Linked DNA regions of Homo sapiens. The protein of the gene in region 2 purifies or fractionates together with the protein of the main gene of each other region. This does not show direct contact. Each region holds a gene or a part of one and is shown on either strand. Other genes may lie near its edges.

Region 1 (7,023 bases), on a different chromosome or scaffold from region 2:
TCACTTTCTCGTTTTCCAAGCGTGCAGTATGCAGGTCTGCCATCGTTCTGTCTCGTACGTTGACAGCATCACTGAGTTCTTTAGCCAGAAAGACAACTTCTTGCCGAGTTGCCTGAACCTGTTCCTCTGCTTTACGAAGTTGCTCCTTTAAAAAACAAGTATCTTCCTGAAGAAAGCAGATAAATATATTTGTAATTCAACCACTCAAGTAAAAAACAGAAGCAGAAACAATTTTCGCACATATTTCAACAGGGCCAAAATTTTAGATATTGGTTTTTCTACTCATGACTTACAGAGTATATGCCTACAAAAAACTTAAGAAGTAACTTTGTTTTAGGTTCCCTCTATAACAACCCTATGTACTTGGTTTCACTGCTACTACTTTATACACAAGGAAGCTAAAGTACAGCGAGTCAGGCAACATACCCAGTGCTTAAGGACCTGCCCAAACTGAGGCTCAAACAAAAGATCCCATCCCCCAGAATCTCTTCAGCTAGAAATACTGACCCTCATTTTGTATGACTACCAGTAAAAATCATTCCGAAAGCTTCTTTGTAACACCAAAAATTTTGGTTAAAAGATGTTTCCTACTTTCTACCCCAAGAGACATCCAATATAATATAAATCTATTTCATATCATTATAAAAACACAGAACAGATTTAGGCCTTAGTTCTAAAAACAAAATATTGATATACAAATAGTAAAGACGAGGCATTGGGAAAATGAAAAGTAATTCATACTGCTTGACAAACCTAAAAGTATCTTTAAAAAGCTAAAATTGCCATGGTGAAATTATTTCCTTTAATATTAATGTTTAAACATTATAACATTTAAACATTATAAACACAATAAATTTAGTTTATTCAACTTCCTGTTTTTAATCTCTGTACTAAAAATAATGTAAAATCAGGAAAAAAATGCAACCCAATATTGGTTTCTAAACTGTTAGCCCCTTAGAAGGAAATGTAAATGATGATTTTATGCAGTGTTGGCATGGACAAAATCTTCGGAGGCATCACACTAATAGATCTACCTATAAAAAGATCGCCAACTTCTATATGTCAAAGGAGAAGAAAAAGAACTAGAAGAAAATTATATGTAATATATTCAAGAAAGGTATAATAATACTTGATATAAATAACTTTTCTAGTCAATAAGGAGAAACAAAACAAAAGTCAAAAGTCATGAACATACAAAATTTTCTAAAGAAATAAATGCGATTATGCAGTAAAAAAATTCAACTCACCAACAATCAAACAAATAAGTTAAAACAAATGCCATTCACCTTTCAAACTAACAAAGATCAAAAAAACAGTAACATTCCAATATTTGCATGGGTTTAGGGCAACTGGCACATTCACAAACAGGTGGGCTTATATAAACTGTAACTGGCATCTTTTCTCATCAGATATTTACAACATTCATCAGCACCTTAAAAATTCTCACAGCTTTTGATCTAGCAATTTTATTTCCATAAGTTTCCAAGAAAATTATCAAAGGGTATAGACATAGGTTTAGCTTTACAAGGATTCAATAAAATACTAAAATAATGAAAAATCATTAAGAACCTAAAATGTCTACCAACATGAGAATTTATGATAAACTATGATATACTACCTCTATATAATCAAAGTCTGTGCAGACATTACAAACAATACATATCTCATATACTCTTGGTGGGAATAAAAAAATCAATAGAACATTTTTTTGAAAGGTAATTTGAAAATAACTATCAAAATTTAAATACTCATTGACCCAGTAATTCCACTTGAAAGAACTTATTCTACGGATTATAAATGTGCCTACATATTGCTATAAGGATGTTTACTGCAGGATGCTTATAAAAGCTGAAGACTATAAACAATCAAAAACAATCAAAAAACATATACTACACAGTTGTTAAATGAAGAGAAGAAATACTAGGCAGTTGTTATGATGAATGAAAAAGATCCACATGTGTATCATAGTGCAAGATATCCATTTATAAATTTTTTTAAAAGGAAAAAATGTATAAATTCTAATTTGTGTTAAAATATAAATATACGTATATTCATAAATTCAATAATAACTTACTTATCTGAGAAGGGATGAGGATTACATTTTACTTTGTATCCTCATGTACTGTTTAAATTTTTTTATAACCATCACCTCAAACTACTTTCACAATCTTTTAAAAGCTTTAGCAACTAGTAGTCATTTTTCTCAGGTACTTCCATAACTACGCTTTTCCTCACAGAAGTCTTGCTTAAATAGGAAAAAGATGCTTAGAGAAATTTTTAGCATCTTATTAAATAACAAATAATCAAATACACTTCTCATGTTTGCACTGGCAATCTGTTACATTAAAAAGTAACAAGGATTAACCATTAATTCTAAATGTCATGCGCTTCTGACGTTTTAGGTATTACATTAACTATGTCTGAGTATTTTTAATAGCAAATTACTAAAAATAACATCATAAGAAATAATGAATCAATCAAGGTAAATCTATATAATGGAATATTATGTGGCCATTTTTTTCAAATGAGGAAGATCTCTACAAACTGATATGGAGTAACTAGCAACTTATTTTGTTCAGTGAGAAAAAGGTGCAAAATGGTATGTATAGTAGCGCTACCTTTTTTAAGAACGAAGAGGATAAAGAAGGATGTATGTACATGTACACATGCATATATAAGCTTATTTTTACAAAAAGAAACATAAGAATAAACTAGAAACTTATGAAAATGTTTATCTATGGGCATAGGTAAGAAAAGGGTTTAAAAAAACAAGGAAGAGATTGAGACCTCAGAGTAAAATTTTTCTATCATTTTGACTTCTGAACAAAGCAACTGTTTTACATATTCAAACAATAAAAATAAATCAAACAGAAGAATAAAAGCAAATATTAAAATTAAATACAAGCAAATGAAATTATATTACAAATTTATAACATAGGTATGCAAAAAAATAGTTCAAGTAACTTTTGAACATGGCGTTTCTATACATCCTTAGTGAAACATATTCTAAGAAAAAAGAGCTGTAAAAATACCTTAGCTTTATTTAGTACATTTATTGTTGGAAGTGGCATTGATGTAATAATTGTGAAAACACTGGTGTGTACGGCTGGATGGAAACACATGAGTAATAATGATGTTTGGGAAACAAGAGTTCTCACATTGCGAGAAGAGAGATATAAATATGGAATGGAGCAAAGGAAGGAAGAATCCTAAGGTACTAAATCTGAATTGGAGCTATCAATATAAATTAAAGATGCAAAATACCCACTGAATGTGCAAAGCAGCAGCCCCATAGTAGCAATAGGATCCAGTTCTTGGTTTCAAAATACCATTACCTACTAAAAAAAACAGAGTTTCTTGGAGAAATGGTAATATCAGGTCTGGGGGAACAACCTGAAGTTAGAACATACAGTTGTGCCATAAAGCAAGAAAGTATTCAAAGCATTATAGGAACATATCAGGACAAAAAAGCAGGCTTGAAAAGGTTCCCCTGGTTAAATTCAGAACAATTTGGGTATGAAAAAGAATAATGATGATTATGCATAATATGCAGCAAAAAATCAGTAAGTCCAAAGTTATATTTAAAAAAGAGGGAAGGGTGACAGGAATGTCCTCATGATAAAAGATTACCTACAAATAAATGTAGAAGGCATAATAGAATTTTTTAAATCACCATTTTTCTATCATTAATTATTACCAACATAATAGCTGATGCAGGTGAGGAGCATCAAAGGACAATAAAAACATTGAGGAAAGGCTGTTGGAGAACAGGGTGTTTATACAGATTGCTTAATAATCACAAACAGGGAAAGAAAAGAAAGGCACCTATATAGAGACAGGTAGGCATAACTTTAAACAAATTATTAAACCTAACATTATCAAGAACGAAACAAATTGACATTATATAACTTTTGATATGACTCCAACAGGATGGACAAAACATCATCTATGTCTTTTCTTGCAAAAATGTCTCACCTGAATCTAGTCATGAGAAACAACAGACAAATCCAGATTATAGAACATTTTCTCAGACTAGCCTGTCTTCTCCAAAAATATCAATGTCATAAAAAGTGTAGGGACACTATTCTAGACTGAAACCGACTCAAAATACAACAATCAAAATAATATGTAGTCTTTGACTAACTGTGAATCACAAAATTTTAAAGATTATATAAGAATACATTTGGGGCAATGTGATTGTGAACTAACTATGAGAATGACTGTTATTCAATCAGTGCTAAATTCTTAGGTGTAATAACGGTGTCATGGCTATGAAGAAGAATGCACTTGTTCATAAGGGAGACATGCTAAAGTATTTAGAGTAAATTATCGTAATACTTGCAACTCACATCGCTCAGAAAAAAAGGCATATAAATGAGGGAGATAAAACAAAGAATGGCAAAATATTTTAGGGTACATCAGTATTCATTGTTCTGTTCTTCCAACTGTTTTGTAAGTTTGAACTTTTTTAGAACAAAAGCTTGGGGGAATTAAAAATGAAAATCATATTGCATACATTTCATAGGTATGTTTTACAATCTTCAAATATATATAGCAAAAGTACTTACTTTACTTGAGGTTGTAAGCAGGAAAGTTCTTTGCAGATTTTCCTTTTCAGCCAAACATAACTGCAGCCTGCCAATCTCTTCTTTGAAATGAGTAATCACGCTTTCTTTGTTCCCATCTAAATTTTTTAAAGTCTGGACCTCTGACATAAGCTTGGTATTTTCTATTTCTGTATTCTTCAAATGTACCTGTAATGGTGTTTGAAAATGTCAAGAATATTCTAACTCCATGACCTAAGTTAGTCAAAGTTTAAAATACCATTATATTTCTAACCCAAAGACAACGAAAGGAAGGAAAGACATACTAGACTAGGATTTAGGAGACCCAGGTTCTGCCAAATGACTAGTTAAGCATGCAGGAGCAGAACACAGCTTTTCTAAGCTTTTTTATTTTCCAGAGAGATTATTCTAAGCCCTAACAACATCACCTGATCTCTAAAGTCTTTTCCTTTGATTTAATGGTTTCAGGTTCTCTTTAAAAATGCAAATAGATTTGGTTGTTCTTTTGGGGAAACAAATTATGTTATTTGGCATATTCAAATCTGGCACGACAAGACTCTGGAAAACTAGAAGGGGTGCATTCAAAAACAACATCTCAAACAATTCCATTTTCTGCAGGCGAAAAGTACGATATCATTTAGTTTCAATGTGCTGAAAAATGTATTTGTTGACTAACCCAACTATATTGATTTTCCCATGACTCTCGCTATTGCTGATTTGCTCCTAACACACATACAAATCAAATTCAATAACTGGAATTATAAATACAGACCTGTAGTGTACACTATCAAGTATATCCTGCTTTCGTTAAGAGTACTGAGGAGAAATGAATTAACTTACTTCTTGCACTTTACTCTTTAAATATACAGAATGCTGAAGGACTAATTCCTGTTCACAAGGATAGAATATTAACTCCTGATTCTCTGAAGACATCAGCAACCAACACCCTTGCAGCATCACTTTAAAACGCTACCTGATGTTCATAATCATCAGCTCATTAAATTGACTTAACAAGAAACGGACTTAACTCAGAATGTTCTTGAAATTCCTCATCTGGAATTGCCTTCAGGAAATGCTTATGAGCCACTTAAAAAAATAAGTCTCAATTTGCACCCACAGCATTACTGACAATTAAGCTAACTACCCTATATTTCAGGGTTGCTTAAAAAAATAAATAAATAAAAACTGCCAGGCACGGCGGCTCACGCCTGTAATCCCAGCACTTTGGGAGGCTGAGGCGGGTCAGGAGATCGAGACCATCCTGGCTAACATGGTGAAACCTCGTCTCTACTAAAAAAATACAAAAAATTAGCCGGACGTGGTCGCGGGCACCTGTAGTCCCAGGTCCTCGGGAGGCTGAGGCAGGAGAATGGCGTGAACCCGAGAGGCAGAGCTTGCAGTGGGCCGAGATCGCACCACTGCACTTCAGCCTGGGCGACAGAGCGAGACTCCATCTCAAAAAAAAAAAAAAAAATTCAAAACTTCAAGCGGTCAAGATTTGTTAGCAGTGAGGATATTTTTACAAAATGACATCTCTGAAGATATTCTAAAAGTCAAACTCTAAAATGGGATTATTACTAAATTAATGTTCTCCCCAATGTGTATATATATATATGTTCTTAAAAAGGAAAAATAGTTACATGAATTGTGATAAACAAGTATCTTAATTCCATTAAACCTCTTCAACTTATTACACACTACCTGTTAAGTATCTAAAACAGCAGCAAATTAATTCCCTGAAAACTAACTTTTAGGGGTGATATACAACATGACTGTGACTTCCTCCTTGCTCTCTCCTGGATCACTCACTCTGAGAGAAGCTAGCTGCCATGCTGTGAGGATATTCAAGCAGCCTATGAAAAGACCACTTCAAGAGGAGCTGAAGGTTCTCCTGCCAAAAGCCACTGGAGTAAGCCATCTTGAAAGCAAACCCTCCAGTCCCAATCAAGCCCTTAGCTGACTGCACCCCTTGCCAACATCCTGACTGCAACTACACAAGAGGCTAGAGCCAGAACCACTCAGCTAAGCTGCTCCTAAATTGCTGACCTACAGCCCCTAAGTTCTGGGGTCATTTCTTTTGAAGCAACAGGCAATAGATATGGTAAAAAATAAATTACCTTATAAAGTTCCTTTTCATCCTTCTCTGTCTTCAACTGACATTCAAGTTGTTCTCTTTCATGTTGTGCCTTCTTGAGTTTGTCCTTTAAACTAAGATAGGTATGATAAAGTAACATTATAATGTTTTAAAGTTTTAAAATTTTTATTGAATTTATTTTTTAAAAGCATGAGAAATACCTGTCTAATTCGGTTTCTTTTTCAATTGCTTTATGTGTTACTGACACAATATCTTCCTCAAGCTGATGGGCTTTGGATGTAGCATCACTGAACCTCTTCTTAAACTCTTCATTTTCCATTTTTAAGCTTTGTGTTACTTCAGTAAGACCCTGAGAAGTGACAA
Region 2 (7,777 bases):
CTTGGTGGTGGGCATCTGCAATCTCAGCTACTCGGGAGGCTGAGGCAGGAGAATCGCTTGAACCTGGGAGGTGGAGGTTGCAGTGAGCCAGAATCATGCCACTGCCTCCAGTCTGGGCAACCGAGCGAGACTTTGTCGAAAGAGAAAGGAAAAAAGAAAGAAAGGAAGAAAAGGAAGAAAAGGAAGAAAGGAAGAAAGGAAGGAAAGAAGAAAGAAAGGAAAGAAAGGAAGAAAGAAAGAAAGGAAAGAAAGAGAAAGAAAGGAAGGAAGGAAGGAGGAAAGGAAGAAAGGAAGGAGGAAAGGAAGAAGGAAAGGAAGAAAGAAAGGAAGGAAGGAAGAAAGAAAGGAAGGAAGAAAGGAAGAAAGGAAAGAAAGAAAGAAAGAAGGAAAGAAAGAAAGAAAAAAGAAACTAGCAGATTTGGAATTCAAATTCAAGAAGGCTGGGCCAGGAATGGTGGCTCACGCCTGTAATCCCAGCACTTTGGGAGGCCAAGACAGGCAGATTATTTGAGCCCAGGAGTTCAAGACCAGCCTGGTCAACATGTGAAACCCTGTCTGGACTAAAAATACAAAAATTAGCAGAGCATGGTGATGTGCACCTGTCTTCCCAACTACTCGGGAGGCTGAGGTAGGATAATTGCTTGAACCTGGGAGGCGGGGGTTGCAGTGAGCCGAGATCATGCCACTGCACTCCAGTCTGGGCAACAGAGCGAGACTTTGTCTCCAGAAAAAAAAGAATCCCTAAGCCTCAGTTTCCTCATCTGTAAAGTGGGGCTGCTGAGAAAAGTAAGTAGGTGAAATGCTTAGGGTAGTGACTGACACATAGCGAGTCTTGCTGCTGTTGTGTTAATTTCCTCTGACCCCAGAGCCCATGCACTGAACTTATGCATCCTAAAATAAGGCAGTTTGGGCACACCCTGCAGAAGGAAGCCTGTGAGAGGGTCTCCTGTCATAGCTACTCTGCCACAACCATCCCCCCAAATAAGGAGTCACAGCAAGGCGCCTACCTCCAGAGGGGTGAAGTCATGATTGACCAGGAACGCCAGAATGGCTGTGGGAACGACCAGGAACTCCACTCTGAACGTGTCATGGTTCCCATCGTAAGTAGCTTTGAACTTGCTATAAATCAACCAGACCGTGGTGAAGGAGCAGGCTATGTAGACCACCTGAGGAGGGGGATGATGAGAAGGGGCCTCAACTCACAGGCCTGTGCCCCAGTAGGCTCAGAGCCCGGAGTCCAGGCCCCTCCCTCAGACGCAGGAGTCCAGACCCCCAACCCCTCCTCCCTCAGACCCAGGAGTCCAAGCCCCCAGCCCCTCCTCCCTCAGACCCAGGAGTCCAGGCCCCCAACCCCTCCTCCCTCAGATCCAGGAGTCCAAGCCCCCAGCCCCTCCTCCCTCAGACCCAGGAGTCCAGGCCCCCAACCCCTCCTCCCTCAGACCCTGGAGTCCAGGCCCCCAGCCCCTCCTCCCTCAGACCCAGGAGTCCAGGGCCCCATTCCCTCCTCCCTCAGATCCAGGAGTCCAGGCCCAGCCCCTCCTCCCTCAGACCCAAGAGTCCAGGCCCAGCCCCTCCTCCCTCAGACCCAGGAGTCCAGGCCCCAGTCCCTTCCTCCCTCAGACCCAAAAGTCCAGGCCCCCGGCCCCTCCTCCCTCAGACCCAGGAGTCCAGACCCCCAACCCCTCCTCCCTCAGACCCAGGAGTCCAGGCCTCAGTCCCTTCTTCCCTCAGACCCAAGAGTCCAGGCCCCCGGCCCCTCCTCCCTCAGACCCAGGAGTCCAGGCCCCCAGCCCCTCCTCCCTCAGACCTAGGAGTCTGGGACCCACACCCGGCTCCTCTGCCTCAGTGGGGGCCAGAGAGGTGGGGTGGAGCCTCTACCTTCATACACGTGTTGTAGAGTGAGATGTAGTTGGTGAAGAGGTCCAGATATCGGGCAGTGAACACCACAGCAAACAGGACCTGGCTCTTCCCTGAAATTCCTGTGGTCCAGAGACAGAGAAAGAGAGAGAGAGAGAGACAGAGAGAGAGAGAGAGACAGACAGACAGACAGACAGACAGAAGGAGAGAGGAAGCTGGGGGTGGGCTGCATGGGCAATAAACTAAGGCAGGGCGCCCGGGACCAGCCTGGAGGCAGCTCTGGAGTGCAGCTGTCCCCGGAGGCCTCCCCAGCCCGCCCCGCCTGAGCAGGGCCCTTTCCCACGGACCACAGCCAGGGGGCAGCCCAGGCCCCCGAAGCTACTCCAGCCCGAGGCTCCGTCCCAGACTAGGCCTCATGGCTACCCCTGGCCCCTCAGGGTCCTCCCGCAGTCTGGACCTGAGGTGAGGCCTAGGGAGGACCTTCCCTGACCTCAGGCCCCGGATCCGGTCACCTCCCTCCCGTTCCCTTCCTGGCCGCCACGGTCCACGTCACCAACTCACAGCCACCTCCCCGCCTGCCATGGTTCCCTGTTCCCGGTCCATGAACCCTCGGGCTGCCCAGATTGGGGCTGGGGGTGGCTGAATTGGGGGCCTAAAGCCATTCACATGAAACTGTATGCACCCCCGCCAGTCTGGGGAAGGGAGCTGATCCCCTGGAGACCCAGAACCTAGAAGAGAGATCCCCAGCAAGCAGTGGGGGTGGAACCTGTGCCCCTAGTGCCCCCAAACCCTTCCTGAGTCCTGCGACGTCCCCCAACCCCCGCCCGCAATCTCTCTCCTTCGCCAGCCCTGGTGGGCCTCTCACCGGCGCACGAGCGGGACTTCCAGATTTTGAGCAGTAGCAAGATGATGGCGAGGAGGTGGGAGAGGTCTCCCAGGAATCGGAAGAGATTCATGGCTGGGGAACCCTGGCAGGGCTGAGCGGGAGGGAGGCAGGCTGGCGGGGGGGTGCCCCCCGAGGCTGCTGGTCTGAACGGGTAGCTGGGCTGGGGGGACGGAAGAGGGACCCTAGGTGCGCTCCGCTCCGGGGAGGGGACTTTGGGAGGGGGAGCAAAGGCTGGAGCTGGCGGCGGAGCTGGAGCCGGGAAGAGGGAGGAGAGCGAGAGGGGGAGGAGTCCGGGAGGAGAGGCTCCGCCCCCGAGGGCGGGGCCTGGATCCCCGGCGCCCCCTATCGCCCACCTCCTGCTTTGCCGTGGCGGCGCTAAACGCACCCCCAAAGCTGCCCCATAGGAACTTGGGAGGGTCGCAGGGTTCGGAAAGTGCCAAATCCAGCACCGGTTCGCCCAGGCAGTCTGTGTCTCTGGAAGAGACGCAGTCCAGTACACCAGCCTCAGCCCTTGCAGGGATGTAGAGACTGCCCTCTGAGCTTGAAAAATCCTGCAGGGACCCGGAGGCTCAGCTGCTAGCTTTTGCAGCTTTCAGGCACTCTAACTCCAATCCCCCAGAAGACAAGAAAGATACCCCACCTACTTCCTCCCCTAGACCCAGGACTCAAGGCCCCAGCCCGTTCGTCAAACCCAGAAGTCTGGGTCCCCAGCCCCTCCTCCCTCAGACCCAGGAGTCCAGACCCCCAGCCTCTCCTCCCTCAGACCCAGAAGTCCAGACCCCCAGCCCCTCCTCCCTCAGATCCAGGAGTCCAGGCCCAGCTCCTCCTCGCTCAGACCCAGGAGTCCAGGCCCCCAGCCTCCTCCCTCAGACCCAGGAGTCCAGGCCCCCAGCCTCCTCCCTCAGACCCAGGACTCCAGGCCCCCAGACCCTCCTCCCCCAGATCCAGGAGTCCAGGCCCCCAGCCCTTCCTCCCTCAGACCCAGGAGTCCAGACCCCCAGCACCTCCTCCCTCAGACCCAGGAGTCCAGATCCCCAGCCCCTCCTCCCTCAGACCCAGGGGTCCAGGGCCCCAGCCCCTCCTCCCTCAGACCCAGGGGTCCAGGGCCCCAGCCCCTCCTCCCTCAGACCCAGGGGTCCAGGGCCCCAGCCCCTCCTCCCTCAGACCCAGGAGTTCAGGGCCCCAGCCCTTTTCCCTCCTAGGACGCTGTTCCTTGGAACTTAGGGTCCCACCCCCACCATCTTATGGATCAAACATCCTAACCTTAAGAATCTAGATCTACAGTTTCTCCCTTTACGACCCACAGATTTAGGCCCTGATTCTCTTCTTTTTCAGGAATGTGCACCTCACCCTGTTCTCCCAGACCTTGAGGATGAAGGAAACAGGAGCCTCACCCAGGAGGCTCAAGGCCAAAACTCTGACCCAAACTACCTCAGGAGCCCCTGGCCCTGGCTTCCCCCCTGCTCCAGAGTTTCTGCCCTGCCCACACACACACACCCTCTTCCACCCTCAGAGGCCCCGGTGTCCTGCCCCACGCTCTACCCCAGAGCCCCACGGGTGGCTTTATAAAAGTGCCGGGCCCAGCCCTCTAGCAGGAGGGGAATGCTGGGCATCTGGGTGTGGGACCCCCGGGGAACAGCCTGTGGTCTGGACTCCTGCATCTATGAGGGGACAGACGTGGCTTCCCTTCCGGATGATGGGGTACCCACAGATGATGGAGGCCAGGGTCCCTCAATAAAAGAAGGGGTGCAGGCGTGTTGATTTCTTCAGAGGGCTGGAAGGACGGGGTGCCCAAGGGTGACATCCACGAGTCTTGGGTCCCTGAGGGTGGCTTGTACGGGGGAGAGTCGGGATGACTGAGTCCTTAAAAGAGACTCCGACTTGGAGGCGGTCCCCAAATTCCTGGGTCCCAGTAGAGAAGGGGACTCCTGGGTCTGAGGGAGGAGGGGCTGGGGGGTGGGACTCCTGGGACCAGGGTCGAGACCTGGTTTTCAGGCCTGGCCTTCTGGGGCAATAAAAGCCACAGCTTGGGTCTTAGTGTGGCGAACACTGAAGTCAGGGAAAGGCCTCCTGTTTCCAGAGCCTCAAGGCAGGGCGGGGGCAGAGGGCAGCAACCCCCAGCCCTGGAGTCTAGCTCTGAAGCTGGTGTCTCCATACCGGGTTCTGAGTCCCTGCCTGCCTGTCCCCAGCCTGACTTCTTCCTCCCTTTTTATTTTCAGCCCCTCACTCCCTTGTCCCAGGAGGAAGGCAGAGGCTGGTAGCTAGGGGTGGGGGGCGGCCCCCTCCCCAAGCCTGGCAGGAGAAGGGGTCCCCAGGGAGGCCAGGAGGGGGGGCTGTGGGTCTCCCGGCAGTGGCAGACGGGGACTGAATGTTAATCGCATCCCGAGTGAGTGTGTGTGTGCGAGAACACAGCGAGTGTGTGAGTCCCTCCCGCTCCAGCTCCTCCAAGCCGCGGCCGCCGCCGCCACCCTCGCCCGCAGCCTCCCGCAGCCTCCCTCGGCCACCGGTGCCTGCTGGGGGTGTTGCCTGGGTAGGTCGGCCCGGCCCCCAGGGGTCTCTCGAGCGTCTGCCATCTGCCCGGTGAGGATCTGTGTGTCCGGGTGTCTGGGGCTGGCTGGTGGAGGGGGGGTGTGTCTGTAAGCGCTGCGGCGGCGGAGGGAGGGAGGGGTCTGTCTGTCTGTACCGACCCTGAGCTGCCTGCCTGGGTGTCGTGGGGCTCCCGCTCCTTCCCCCCGGCCCCCCCAAACCCAGATGGATGGTGTGTACCTGGGTTCTGTGCCTCCTGCCTGCGTCCGGCCAGGCGTCTGGGCGTCCCCGGCTGCCTGTGTCCTCCTGTCTGTCCAAACAGCCCCTATCAGCAGTGGCAGCCTGGCCCCCATTAGACCCCCCACTCTGTGTGTGTGTGTCTGTGTGTGTGTCCCTCCTCAAGCTCTGGGGGTGTTGAGGGGGAATCCCAGGGAAGTGAGATCGTGCGTGTGTGCGTGAGTGTATGTGTGTTTCTGCCTGTGTTTGAGAGTGGGGGAGTCAAGGGGGGGTCTAGAGGTGGCCAAGCGAGGAAGGGGCAAGCAGTTCCCCAAGCAGGCAATCTCCCGCTCCTCACACGCACACACCAGCCACTAGCTTCAGAGGTGACCCAGACAGACAGATAGACACAGACGCTGGAAGGGGGGGTGGGGGGGCTGAGGGCACAAAGCGGGGGTGCGAGTGAGCCAGGGAGAGGCGGGACTGGACACATGGAAAGGGGGGAGGAGCCGGGGCTGAAGCGGCAGAGGGGGGCACCCCGGGTGGGCGGAGGGGGGATCCCCACGGGGTCGGGGCGGCAAGAGGACACCCCGACAGCCTCTGCAATGTCCGGGGCCCAACTTCCAGAGCAACATGTGTAGCCACGTCCTCGCCTAGTCCAGGTGGCCGCAACCTTGGGGGAGAGACAGGGCAGGACAGGACCAAGGAAGAGGAAGGAGAGACGGAGCCAGGGACAGACAGGAGGTCCGGGCTGCCGCTGCTGCCGCCACCACCACTGCCGCCGCCCCGGGGCCTGCCCCCCGACATCGGCTCTCTGAGCCCTCCTCGGAATCTTGGGGTCGCTGGACGCCGGGTTCCGGTCCTGGCCCCCCCGCCATCCCCCCAACAGAACAGGGTCATGAAAAGGTAAGGCGGGGACAGGGGATGCAGGGATGGTGGTGGGAATGTGGACCCCCAAATCTAGGACAGAGGAAGTTGGCAAGAAGCCTCGTGGAGGGAGGGGGTTTGAACGGTGGGCAGGGGTCTTGACCCCCACCTAGCTCCCCTGTCCCTCAGGGACTCTCCTCCACCCTCTCTCTCTCCCTCTCTGAGCCCCTTTTTCCTGAGTCCCTACACCTCAGACCTTTCACGCCCCCATTTCTCTGACACTTGGCTCCCTCTCCCCATCCCCACATACCTGATGCCCCATATCCCTGTGCCTCCATCTCTCTATCTCACCTTCTCCCTGTACCCCCCTCCCTGCATCAGTCCCCCCATCGCGAGCCGGTCCTCTCCCTCTCTCCTCTCGCTCTCCCCTCCCATGTCAGAGCTATGAGTCTGCTATTAATACCCCCGCCAAGGACCTTGAGGGCATCCAGGCCCCCAGCACCCCTCGCCCCAAGCTCCCACCCCTTCCTCAAGGTTCTGGAACACCCTTCCAGCCTCTTCCAAGCATCAGGATTCGGGTGGGGAGAGACCGATGTTGTGTGTGTGTGTTGGGAGGTGAGGGGGGAGGAAACGGGATGCCGTCTGCAGCACAACTCGAGGTTGTGGGGGGAGCTGTTGATCGAAGTGGCCGCTCCTCTCTTCTCTGTTGGATGCTGTGGGGGGCAATGAAGACAGGGACACCCTAGGAATTTCTGGCACCCTCCTCCTCCTCCCCGCTTGGGGACAGGCTGTGCTATGTACAGGATCTAAGTGGGGTGACTAGGGAGGCCAGAGCTCGGTGGGGGGGCACCCAGGATGTTGGGAAGGATAGGGTTTGAAACCAAAAGGGGATCCTTAAGGGAGGACAGGAGCCGGAACCCGGACTCCTGGGTCCTTGGGGGAAGAGGGGAGCTGGGGACCTGGACTCTTGGTTCCTGCAGGGAGAGGAGGCTGGGCACTGGAGTTCCAGAGTCTTGGGGCAGGAGGGGCCTGGCCTCCTGGGTCCTGGGAAAGAACAGGACCGAATGCCCAGACTCCCAAGGCCTGGGGGAGGAAGGGGCTGCCAGAAGGACTCCTGGGTCTTTACGGGAGGAGGTAGGGGATAGCGCTTCCGTCTGAGGAAGGCAGGCTGGGAGCTCAGTCTCCTGAGTCCCTGACAGGGCAGGAGATGAGTGTTGGGGACTTTAGCCCTATGCAGATGGAAGTGGAAACGGAGGCTCATGAGGAGGTAGAGATGGAGGCGGGGGGAGCGGGGGGTTGTCCAGAGGCTGGACTCTGTGATCCCTGAGGGCGTGGGTTCTGGGGGTTGGGCCTTCAGAGTCCTGGAGGACTGGGGATGCCCCTCCTCAGGCCCTGGAGTGGGGGAGGCTGCTCTCCCTAATCCCT
Region 3 (7,023 bases), on a different chromosome or scaffold from region 2:
TGAGCCACCTTGCCCGGCCAAAATAAAGTAGTTTTCAAGAAGAAAAAAGGAATAGAGAATAGGAGGTTTCCAAAAAAGTCGAGGAGGCCACGGAATTCTCTCTAAGGAGCCGTTTTCTCTAAGGGCACAGCGGCAGGAGGAAGGCGAGGCAGGCTACTCAGAGGCGGGACAAGGACAGCAGAACATCCAGAAAGGCCGGAACGCTCCCTCCTTCCTGAGCCACATTCTCTCCTTAAGCCAGCCTGGACAGGTGCTCAGAGCTGGTCCAAGGGGTGCCCCTTTACCAACCTTCAGAGCCAGTTTCCTCACAACCACTGAGGATTTTAAATAATCATCAGGAACATTCTGCCTCCATATGAGCCAGCAAAACAGAGAACTGAGGGCGCGCACTCCATATCTCCAAGAGCAAGAAGCCTTAAAAATGATATATTCAGTGTACCACTTCCACAAAAGGATCATTCAGTCCATCAAAAAGTACTGAAAATCCACCACGCATAGTGCTAATAGCATTCCACTCCAAGGGGCTCTTCTGGAAATATCCGTTTCTCAGCCATGAAAACAAATCTAGACAGACAGGGAACATCTCACCTGTCTGTTCAGCGTGATGGCGCTCGGCTGGCACTTAGTACAGATGCCATTCGGCCACGGGAGGTGCCCCTCGCACCCTGACTTAATCTTGCAGCTGATGTTCTCCAGGGCAACAAACTTCCCCCTACATAGAAGAGAAGCAACTTAAACATCACATTGGTGAAAAGTTGAGCAAGAGGCTGGAAATGACATGCTAAGTATCTTATACCTCCTGAACAGTGTCTCAGGAGCTAAGCACGTGGCAGCAGCAGGGAAGATGGGCTAAGGATGATTCTAATGGAAGCTCTACCTACAGTTCCAGCACATTCCGAATCCCAGCTTCTGTCCCACATACTTCAACCATACAGGAACACACAACTACTTTCCTACCAAACTGTGGTGTTTTTTACCATCTATCACTAACATCCGAGAAAGCTTTCAAGAATACTGTAGAATATCTACTGATCTCACCTGTGCCACTGAGCGGGCATGAGGCTCCTACAGGTTTCATTAAATTGTCAGAAACTTTGACATTAGCCCAGTACTTAGATATTTGTAAAAAATTCTTATTCATGGGAAAAATCTGATTAGGATATATAATTAAGGCATCTTTACTCTGCTTTAGGCTAAAATAAAAACTACTGTTGAAGACTGTCAATGAGAAAATCCTGGACCCTACTCTGAACTTTTTCTTTTTCTCCAGCTTTATTGAAATATAACTGACAAAAAAAAAAAAAAAAGAAATCTGTATCTTTAAGGTAGACGTGAGGTTTTGTTTTTCAAATAAAAACGATATATTTACAGTGTACGAAATGATATTCTGAAACATGTCCACACTGTGGAACGGCTAAATTGAGCTAATTAACATATGCATTACCTCACATACTGATCATTTTTGGTGGTGAGCCATTTTTGGTATCATAGCATCTAGGAAGCAAAGACTCGTCACTGAATCTGCATGCTAACAGCAGCCACAAACACGCCCCCACTAGAGACTGTGTTCCTTGACCTAGACTGAGAAAGGCTGACCAAGTCTCTTTCACTACAATCAATCTGCACCCACTCCTTAGTCCAGAGAGTTCCACAGCTTTCCCCACTGACAAGCAACAGTGGGTTTCTAGCAGGTTTTTTCTTCTGGTCTAACATTTTTAAAAAGTCATTTTAGGATGTCAGCAGGTTGTCAGAGAAAAGCTACAATCAGGCGAATATGACATCCTTCACAAAATGTTGCTGACTTCAGTTCAGCCACCATCTCCTCGTTGCACTGACAGGAATTATAAAATAATAGCTGAAGCCTGCTACTTTCTGGTAGGGTGTACAGAGAGCCAACAGGAGAAGGTCATACAGGCAAGGGCTTGCCATGGCTTAAAAGAAATCAAAATGCTCAGTTCACCCCTTTCTGGCCACTGTTACCACCTCTGCCCACCTGGCTGAGCCTGTGGGCAACTACTGTGGTACCATGAGGATTAGTGGCTGCAGCCCCTGCTGTGGCTGAAAACCAAGCTGACTCAGAGGCCAGGCTCTGGGGAAAGGGTTACCAGGCACTGAGGTGGGGAAGCTGAGATTCTCACAGGGTAGTTGTTTTTCTGAAAAGCAGAGAATGAACTCAGACCACAGAATCAACAGGCCACCATCACAGATGCTAACTTGCTGGGGTGGTGTGTGTGGGGACAGCCTCTGTCTGATACTGCACTGTGGCCACGCAGCCAGGCGCCTGCACAGTCGCTCTGCCTTGCTAGCTCCCTTCTAGAACCAGGTTGGCCAGGCGAGGTGGCTCACACCTGTAATCCAGCACTTTGGGGAAACCAAGGCAGGAGGATCACTTGAGCCAAGGAGTTCTAGACCAGCCTGGGCAACATAGTGAGACCCCATCTCTTAAAAACATATATGAGTACATAAAAAATAAATAAATAAATATAGAACCACGGTAACTTTCAAAGGCGTGTGACCCCTTCTCATCTTTACTTCTCTCATTCACACGTTCACTGGCTATAAGCAACAACTGCCAGCTACACAAAAAGGAATTTACGCACAACCAGGTTACAGCAAGTTGCTTACTTGTCAGCCCCTCCAGTCAGCTTCCGGATGTAGGCGTGGAAGGACATGTGCTTCACGGGAGGCTCGAGATGGTTTAGATAGTCCTCATCGAATGGCTGCCAAGACACAGAGTAAGCGAGTGCAGTCTCACACGTGCCGGTCACTCCAGGCGCTGAGCCTCTGCTACGCACAGGGGGAGGCCAGCAGCATGGCCTTGGCAAGTCAAGGCCCACAGTGAAAGCAGGTACTAGGGTCTCCCTTACCACTCTGAGTCAGAACCAAGTTTTTCTTTTTTTAATTAATTGTTTTTTGTTTGTTTGTTTTGAGACGGAGTCTCACTCTGTCGCCCAGGCTGGAGTGCAGTGGCACAGTGGCACAGTCTCTGCTCACTACAACCTCCACCTCTGGGTTCAAGCAACTCTTCTGCCTCTGCCTCCCAAGTAGCTAGGACTACAGGTGCACGCCACCACGCCCAGCTTATTTTTGTATTTTTAGTGGAGACGGGGTTTCAGCATATTGGCCAGGCTGGTCTCAAACTCCTGACCTCATGATCCACCCGCCTTGGCCTCCCAAAGTGTTAGCTTTACAGGCGTGAGCCACTGAGTCTGGCCAATTTAACTGTTTTAGAGATGGGGTCTCATGCTGTTGCCCAGGTTGGAGTATGGTGGTGCAATCATGGCTCACTGCAGCCTCGACCTCAAGTGATTCTCTTGCCTCAGCTTCCTGAGTAGCTGGGACTACAGGCGTGAACCACCACACCCAGCTAATTTTTTAAATTTTTTGTAGAGACAGGGTATACAAAAAAAGAGTTGCCCAGGCTGAACAATTCCTAGGCTCAAATGATCCTCTGGCCCTGGCCTCCCAAAGTGTCGGGACTACAGGCGTCACTGCACATAGCCAGAAGCAAGTTTTTCTTTGTGTGCCAGTTATCTTTTCAAGATTAAAATGAATCTCTATTAAACACAAAACGCTCTAAGTCAAATGAGTTTCAGGAAAATTGTGCAAAAAGAAATGCCACAAGATGAGGCAAGAGATGCCTCATGAAGAAAATCGGGCTGGCCTTCCTGCTGTAAACCCAGCATTAACAGTTCCAGTCGGCATTATTACGGTAACTCTCAGTCTCACCAGGACAAACCAGTAGAAGAGATGTGAGATTCAAGGCAAAGTAAATCAACAATGATAAGCACGGAGGCCGACAGGCTCAGCTTTGTGTCAGATCGGAAAAGGATTGTCCAGGGAGCCCGCTGTAAATGCTGCCCCTTTATCACAGCCACACAAATGCTTCAGCCATTCATAATCCAGCGAGAAGGTCACTCCCATAAATAAAGGCTCGTCCTGTGTGCAGCTTGCACTAGGGGAATATGAGGCCCAGGGCAATAAATAGGTAAGTTCTTTGAACCACTCACTACAGCCAAGTGCGTGGACTCAGGGCAAGCACTTAAGACAGCTGTCTACCCGCAGCCCCCCACACTGGCCCAGAACTTACTCCGCAGAGACTCTCACCTCTAGAGGGACGCAGTGCACGCATTTCCCCAAAGGGCCGTGGCGGCATCTGAGGAGAGTACAAGGCAGAAAAAGGCAGAGCAGTGAGGATGTCTGTGTTCCGCTGCTGCTGTCTCACATGCACGTCCTACTTTAACAGAGTGTTTCCCTGCCCACGTGGAGTTATATTCCAGATGGCACATGGATAAACATTTATATTTTAATTGTTGTTTTGTTTTGTTTAAAGACAGGCTCTCACTCTATCGCCCAGGCTGGAGTGCAGTGGTGATCGTGGCTCCCTGCAGCCTTCACCTCCTGGGCTCAAGCACTCCCACCTCAGCCTCCCCGAGTATCTGGGACTCCAGGTGTACACCACCACACCCAGAAGTTTACTACTTATGTTGATATGAATTAGAAAAAACTGACCCGCACATCAAACCTGTGACTTCATGGGTATCCACTGCTTAAAATGACACAAACCAGGCCGGGCGCGGTGGCTCACGCCTGTAATCCCAGCACTTTGGGAGGCCGAGGCGGGTGGATCATGAGGTCAGGAGATCGAGACCATCCTGGCTAACAAGGTGAAACCCCGTCTCTACTAAAAATACAAAAAATTAGCCGGGCGCGGTGGCGGGCGCCTGTAGTCCCAGCTACTCGGGAGGCTGAGGCAGGAGAATGGCGTGAACCCGGGAAGCGGAGCTTGCAGTGAGCCGAGATTGCGCCACTGCAGTCCGCAGTCCGGCCTGGGCGACAGAGCGAGACTCCGTCTCAAAAAAAAAAAAAAAAAAAAAAATGACACAAACCAAAGATAAAAGTGAATGAACTCAAAGTCAATGTAAGTAGTTTATTGGCCAAAGGCAGTGGCTCACACCTCTAATCCCAACACTTTGGGAGGCTGAGATGGGTGGATCACCTGAGGTCAGGAGTTAAAGACAAGCCTGGCCAACATGGTGAAACCCCATCTCTACTAAAAATACAAAAATTAGCCGGACGTGGTGGCAAGCACCTGTAATGCCAGGAACCAGGGAGGCTGAGGCAGGAGAATTGCTTGAACCTGGGAGGCAAAGGTTGCGATGAGCTGAGATTGTGCCACTGCACTCCAGCCTGGGAGACGAGAGTGAAATTCCACTCAAATAAATAAATAAATAAAATAGTTTTTTTTTTGTTTTCTTTTTTTCTGAGACGGAGTTTCACTCTGTCACCCAGGCTGGAGTGCAGAGGTATGATCTCGGCTCCATGCAACCTCCGCCTCCTCGTTTCAAGCGATTCTCCTGTCTCAGCCTCCCAAGTAGCTGGGACTACAGGTGCACACCACCATGCCTGGCTAATTTTTGTATTTTTAGTAGAGACGGGATTTCACCATATTGGTCAGGCTGGTCTCAAACTCCTGACCTCAGGTGATCCACCTGCCTCAGCCTCCCAAAGTGCTGGGATTACAGGTGTGAGCAACTGCGCCTGGCCAAGTCCATTTAAAGAAAAGTGTTAAATAGGCCAGGTGTGGTGGCTTGCGCCCTGTAATCCCAGCACTTTGGGAGGCCGAGGCGGGTGGATCACAAGTCAGGAGATAGAGACCATCCTGGCAAACACGGTGAAACCCCGTCTTTACTAAAAATACAAAAAAATTAGCCAGGCGTGGTGGCGGGCGCCTGTAGTCCCAGCTACTTGGGAGGCTGAGGCAGGAGAATGGCGTGAACCGGGGGGACGCAGCTGGCAGTGAGCGGACGTCGCGCCACTGCACTCCAGCCTGGGTGACAGAGCGAGAGTCCATCTCAAAAAAAAAAAAAAAAAGAAAAGTGTTAAATAAATAATAACAAAGCTGGTACGTGAACATGGCAAAGGGCCTGAGAGCGGTGCATAAATAATCCAAGTTTGGAAAATACCTACTTCATATGCATTTTGGGAAATAACAACAATGAAAAAACCTTGTCCCACGGCTTTCTAACATTTTCAGTCACAGAAGCCTTGGGAGCACAACACGCACAATCTGAAGGAGAGGTATGCTGGTTTACGAGGGCGCCGGCGGCCGTCCCTCCGGGGCTCAGTCAGACCCCTTTCTAAGTGGGGTCAGAATTCTTACATGCGTATGAGCCCTGTGCTGCGGAACAGAGGTGGCCTCTGTGCTTCCTAATAGGCAGGATCTAAGTGATGATGGCTCAGAATTCTCTCACACACACACGCTCTCAAAAGCTGCTAATGAAGCCATGAAGACACAGATCATGCAAGCAAGCCAGTGCCAGGCCCCTGGGAGGAGACACAAATGGAAGAGGCATGCCGGCTAATGGCTATGGCTACAAAGTGGCTCCATGCCAATGGCAGGAGAGCACCATTTATGGCTCTCTGATCTAAGACATAAAAGTTGCTAATGCAGCATTTGGAATCCCAATACCGCAAAGTCAGCACCCCGTCACATCTACAGAGTGATGCATTTTAAAAAAGACCCCACTGCAGAGACAACCTTCGCTCAGACAATTTCACATGGCCAAGTATAAACTCAGATCCTTCTCACTGGTTTATTTAAAAGGAATTGCAAAAAATCTAAAATAAACAATGTACATATGCATAAGCACTTCATATAGCCCCAGGTGAGGAGGGAATATTCCAAGGCACAGCATCTTCTGCAAGTGAAATGCTTGCTGCAGGGATGGAGAGCGCACACTAGTGTGGCAGGTCAAAATCATCCAACCGCTATGAAATGAGAGACACAGCACTCACCTCACATGGATGCGCACACACAACCACCTGCCCCTTCCCTCCTCCCTCCCCTGCAGCTGCTGATTAACACCCCACTCTGCACGGGAATCAGCATCTCCAGGGGACATCACAGTAAAGACTTGGTGTGAGGCCCCCAACTCCCCCAATACCTTTCCAGTCTCTTTGTACCCAAATGCTTCAAAATTTTTTATGGGAACATATTTTGAGGTGGAAACTGATAAAAAG

The links. The genes of interacting proteins can lie anywhere in the genome.
Region 1: the proteins of KDELR1 (region 2) and TAX1BP1 purify together in Homo sapiens (affinity purification with mass spectrometry; 2 studies listed by BioGRID and IntAct, with this or other methods). This does not show direct contact.
Region 3: the proteins of KDELR1 (region 2) and NPLOC4 purify together in Homo sapiens (affinity purification with mass spectrometry; 2 studies listed by BioGRID and IntAct, with this or other methods). This does not show direct contact.

Annotation. Positions count from the first base shown.
Region 1 is NC_000007.14:27,785,149-27,792,171, reverse strand, and holds part of TAX1BP1 (tax1-binding protein 1), read right to left. Parts: intron 7,010-7,023; coding exon 6,861-7,009; intron 6,774-6,860; coding exon 6,683-6,773; intron 4,755-6,682; coding exon 4,569-4,754; intron 167-4,568; coding exon 1-166.
Region 2 is NC_000019.10:48,388,546-48,396,322, forward strand, and holds the start of KDELR1 (ER lumen protein-retaining receptor 1), read right to left. Parts: upstream 3,007-7,777; 5' UTR 2,814-3,006; coding exon 2,723-2,813; intron 1,980-2,722; coding exon 1,879-1,979; intron 1,167-1,878; coding exon 1,008-1,166; intron 1-1,007. UniProt on the Homo sapiens protein: Receptor for the C-terminal sequence motif K-D-E-L that is present on endoplasmic reticulum resident proteins and that mediates their recycling from the Golgi back to the endoplasmic reticulum.
Region 3 is NC_000017.11:81,606,103-81,613,125, forward strand, and holds part of NPLOC4 (nuclear protein localization protein 4 homolog), read right to left. Parts: intron 4,157-7,023; coding exon 4,108-4,156; intron 2,721-4,107; coding exon 2,626-2,720; intron 713-2,625; coding exon 589-712; intron 1-588. UniProt on the Homo sapiens protein: The ternary complex containing UFD1, VCP and NPLOC4 binds ubiquitinated proteins and is necessary for the export of misfolded proteins from the ER to the cytoplasm, where they are degraded by the proteasome.